Regions from separate parts of the Homo sapiens genome. Here region 1 is linked to region 2. The links come from fine-mapping of genetic effects on gene expression. Tissue or cell type: monocytes. Region 2 holds a variant in brackets; the other region holds the start of a gene. All regions are shown on one strand. Distances are from middle to middle.

The links. PIP is the estimated chance that this variant, and not a neighbour inherited with it, causes the effect.
Region 1: it holds the start of CYP4F11, and the variant in region 2 is fine-mapped to the expression of CYP4F11 in monocytes (TOPMed, PIP above 0.99).

What each region holds. Positions count from the first base shown.
Region 1 is chr19:15,933,161-15,935,846 of GRCh38, reverse strand. CYP4F11 (cytochrome P450 family 4 subfamily F member 11) reads left to right here and starts at 1,318. Exons shown (of 12, transcript NM_021187.4): 1 at 1,318-1,636. The coding sequence starts at 1,439.
Region 2 is chr19:15,905,816-15,908,501 of GRCh38, reverse strand. It overlaps the pseudogene LOC729654. Among named protein-coding and RNA genes, the nearest start is that of CYP4F2, 9.1 kb to the right of the region's middle. The variant C/T (reference allele first, on the strand shown) is at 1,172.

The DNA of each region.
Region 1 (2,686 bases), 27 kb before region 2:
GTAAAAGAACTTTGCATATTGTCTTTTGCAAAGAGCAGAGACTGACACACAGCAGCTAAAGTGCTAGCTGCCAGCCCCTTCCCTTCACTCCCTCCTCAGAATCTTTCATCTGTCCCCATCTAAGGCCCATTTTCCTGTGATCCCTCCTCTGTCCCCCTCTAAGGCCTTATCTGACATCCCATTTCCCAGATGGGAAGCCTGAGTCCAGGAGGGGCTCACTACCCACAGTTAGGGCAAGGGGAGGGCAGAATAAGGACTCCACTCAGGGTCCCCCATCTCTGCCCTCCTGTCCCTGGCCCCATCCACTCATGGCCCCTCTCAGCCTTACCTCCCATCTCCCCTCTCTGTCCTCCTATGCTGAACCTAGCCTCCAGGTATTCTCCTCCAGCGGGGCTCTTTATCTCTAAAATCTGACCGGGTAATCCCCAGCACAGTTAGATAGTTTGTTCCTACTCCTGTCAGTCATGTCTCGACCCAGGCCCTGGGTTGCCTGGAGGCAGGACTTGAACTCCTGCCAGACTGTGAAGCCAGAGGCCAGGAGCTTCTGTCTCTGAATCTCCTAAGTCTGCACTGAGAAATGGTGCATGATGAACTCCTGGACCACATGTGGAGAGGAGCTCAGAACATGATCTGGCACAATGGTTGGCCTGGCCCCACTCTCTTGCCACCTGAACTCTCAAGTTCATGACTTTATCTGCCACACTCTTGCCTTGGAAGGGCAAGGTGGCTGTAAACTTTGGGGCTCAGAGTCACCTTTGACTCTTCCTCAAGATCCCCTCCCACTCAGGTGTGAGATGTTGAGACCTGCGGATCCTGTGCCCATGCTGTGTCACCCTGAGCTGGCTCCTCTGCACCCAGCTGGCCCTACGCCAGGTTTTGGTTGGTTGCCCAGGCTTGGAAGACACACCCAGTCCATGGGGATTGGCTCGACCAGCCCAGCCCAGCCTCGCCTCCCACAGCCTTCCGGAAATCAGGGGCCAGAGGCAAAGACCTCCTAGCAGAGGGGGAGAGGAGGGTATGTGGGACAAGCTGCTTCTGATAGGAGCCAGGCTGGCAGTGGCAGGGCTGGAGGGTCCTGGCCTGGGATGGGGAGGGGACTGCCCAAGGTTGGGGTGGGTCAAGGCTGCTGGCCTGGGAGACTGGTGATTTCCTGGTAACTGGACCCCTGGCAACCTCCCAGTGATTCAGGCTGGGCCTTTTTGGATTCTAATCAGCCTCTCTCTCTCTTTCCCTTTCTGTGTAACTGGAGGCCACTTGGCTGCTGGTTTTCATTGGGCATTTCTGGACTTTAGATCTCAGCTCTTGTTTACCCATCTCAGAGCCTTCCCTGATCTGCCTCCAGCACTGCCCATCCTTGCCCCTTTCCACTGTCCTTGGAGCTTCCTGGGCCCTTCCCTGGGCCTCAGGATCCCACCCTCCATCCCGTCTGCCCTGCAGGATGCCGCAGCTGAGCCTGTCCTGGCTGGGCCTCGGGCCCGTGGCAGCATCCCCGTGGCTGCTTCTGCTGCTGGTTGGAGGCTCCTGGCTCCTGGCCCGCGTCCTGGCCTGGACCTACACCTTCTATGACAACTGCCGCCGCCTCCAGTGTTTTCCTCAACCCCCGAAACAGAACTGGTTTTGGGGACACCAGGGCCTGGTGAGTTTGTCAGCAGGACGGGTCTGGGGTCTCAGGATGCATGGAGTTCCTGAGGGGCAGGAATGGGGCTCAGGGAGCTGGGTTTTGAGGGTGGCTGGGGTGTGGGAACACAGAGAAGAGAGGGAGGCAGCTCACTCATTCCTCTGCCCACTCACTCATTCCTCTCCCCGCTCACTCATTCCTCTGCCCACTCACTCATTCCTCTGCCCACTCACTCATTCCTCTCCCCGCTCACTCATTCCTCTCCCCGCTCACTCATTCCTCTCCCCGCTCACTCATTCCTCTCCCCGCTCACTCATTCCTCTGCCCACTCACTCATTCCTCTTCTCGCTCACTCATTCCTCTGCTCACTCACTCATTCCTCTCCTCACTCACTCATTCTTCTCCTCACTCACTCATTCTTCTCCTCACTCACTCATTCCTCTGCTCACTCACTCATTCCTCTCCTCACTCACTCATTCTTCTCCTCACTCACTCATTCCTCTCCTCACTCACTCATTCTTCTCCTCACTCACTCATTCTTCTCCTCACTCACTCATTCCTCTCCTCACTCACTCATTCTTCTCCTCACTCACTCATTCCTCTCCTCACTCACTCATTCTTCTCCTCACTCACTCATTCTTCTCCTCACTCACTCATTCCTCTCCTCACTCACTCATTCTTCTCCTCACTCACTCATTCCTCTCCTCACTCACTCATTCTTCTCCTCACTCACTCATTCCTCTCCTCACTCACTCATTCTTCTCCTCACTCACTCATTCCTCTCCTCACTCACTCATTCTTCTCCTCACTCACTCATTCCTCTCCTCACTCACTCATTCCTCTCCTCACTCACTCATTCCTCTCCTCACTCACTCATTCTTCTCCTCACTCACTCATTCTTCTCCTCACTCACTCATTCCTCTCCTCACTCACTCATTCCTCTCCTCACTCACTCATTCCTCTCCTCGCTCACTCATTCCTCTCCCCGCTCACTCATTCCTCTCCTCACTCACTCATTCCTCTCCTCACTCACTCATTCCTCTCCTCACTCACTCATTCCTCTCCCCA
Region 2 (2,686 bases):
ATATGGACTTTTGTTGTTATTTGGATAGTAGTTCAATAAATCTTAAGCTCAGATAATTAAACACTATTTTGAATCTTAACAAGATACTGAGCATTTTTTTGTATGGGATGATATCAGCCTATGTACAATGAATTTAATAAACTTAAGTATTATCAGATATTTTGCACATTTTAGATCAATAAAATCTGAATTAACTGTTCAAGATTTTTTTATCTGTATTTGGAAATATAATTTTGTAAAATCAATGTCTTACCTTTTTATTACAATAGATCATGTTTTGTATTCAATAAAGCAAGAAGCCCTTTTATCTGTTGTTTTTCAGGGAAGGGAGTAACATTTAATTCTGTTTGTTTACATTTGTTTTCATTGTTATCCAATGCTCATTTTATGTTGCTTTATAAGTAAGCTTAGGTATAACAGAATAAGTATCTGTTTATCTAATCTACATGTGACTACTTTAGTCTCTCTCAGTCACTTAATATTATGCTGAAATTTACCACTGTGGGGATGAATGATCACTATCCAACAAGCGTATTTGAACATGTAAATGCTTAAGAAATAAGTATAATATGGATATAGTTTGGGTTAATAGTATTCTCATAGTTTTTTCCCTCTATGAAACATAAGTAATGATTTTAGTGTATTTCTTATGGAATACACTCATTTATAAAGGACTTTAAGAAATTGTGGATGTGAATAATATCTTTCTCTAGTAAAAATTTAAATTGTAAAAAAAAAACCCAAAACCTTTCTGATATTTTCATTGTGATTTCACTGAATCTATAGATTTAGTTGGGAAGAACTGACATCCTGACAATATTGAGCTTTTTGTCTTACAAGAAATGTTCAAGGGAGTCCTGCATCTGGAAGTGAAAAGAGGATCATTACCATCATGACAACATGCAAAAGTATAAAATCCACTGGCAAAGCAGATACACATAAGAGAAAAGAATCAAACCTTATTACTACAGAAAACTACCAAAACCACAATCGTAAACAATAAGAGAGGAAGAGAGGAATAAAAGATATACAAAACAACTAGCAAACAATGAATAAAATGACAGAAGAAGGTTCTTACCTATAATAACTTTGAATGTAAACAGATTAAATCCCCCACTTAAAATATATAGACTGGCTGAATGGATTTTTTAAATGACCCAACTATGTGCTT[C/T]CCATAAGAAACTCACTTTACCTATCAAAAAACATATAGACTGAAAGTGAAGGGATGGAAAAAGACATTCTACCCAAGTGGGAACCAAAATCAAATAGGAGTAGCTATGTTTATATCAGATAAAAATAAAACAGACAAGGGATAAATTCAGCAAGAGCATATAACAATAGTAAATATATATGCACCCAAAACTGGAGCACCTAGCTACAGAAAACAATTATTATTAGATCTAAAGGGAGAGATAGACTCCCATACAATAATAGTTGCAGACTTCAATAACCCAATCTCAATACTGGACAGATCATCTAGACAGGAAGTCAACAAAGATACATTGTATTTAAATTTCACTTTAGACCAAATAGACTTAACAGACATTGACAGAATAGTTCATGCAACAGCTGCAGAATACACATTTTTTTTCATTAGCACATGGAAAAATCTCCTGGAGAGACCACACATTGGGCTACAAAGCAAGTCTCAACAAGTTTAAAAGTACTGAAATCACATCAAGTATACTTTCTGACGGCAAGGAAATAAAGCTAGAAATCAATAACAGAAATAACTTTCAAAACTGTACAAATACATCAAAATTAACAACATGCTCTTGAACAACCAATGGATTAATAAAAAATTAGGAAGTACATTTAAAATTTCTTGAATCACATGAAAGTATAAACACAATGTATCAAAAGCTATGGGATACAGCAAAAGCAGTATTAAGAAGGAATTTTATAGCAATAAACACCTACATCGAAAAAAGTAGAAATATTTCAAATAAACAATCTAATGATGCACCTCAAGGAACAAGAAAAACAAAAGCAAACCAAACTCAAAATTAGTAGGAAAAATGAACTAATGAAGATCAGAGCAAAAATAAATGAAATTGAAAGTAAAAATAAAATACAAAAGATCAATAAAACAAAGAGTTTTGTTTGTAAAAAAATAAACAAAATTAACAAATGTTTAGCTAAACAAAGTAAGAAAAAAGAAAGACTCAAATAAATGAAATCAGACATGAAAAAGGAGACATGACAATTGATACCACAGAAATACAAAGAATCATTGGAGTCTATTACAATCAACCATGAGTCAACAAATTGGAAAGCCTAGTAAAAATGTATAATTTCTCAGGCACATACAACCTATCAAGATTGAACCAAAAAGAAATAGAGAGTCTAAACAGACTAATTACAAGTAATGAAATATAACCAGTAATAAAAACTCTCTCATCAAAGAAAAGCCCAGGACCTGATGGCTTCAATGCTGAATTCTACCAAACATTAAAAAAAATACTTAATACCCATTCTTTTCAAACTGTTCCAAAAAATCAAAGAAAAGAGAGTTCTTCTTAATTCATTCTATGAAGGCAGCATTACCCTTATACCAAAACCAGAATGGGACACAAGAAGAAATGAAAACAGCAGACCAATATCGCTGATGAATAGAAGTGCAATAATTCTCAATGACATACTAGGAAATCAAATCCACCAGCACACTACAAAGATAATTTACTAT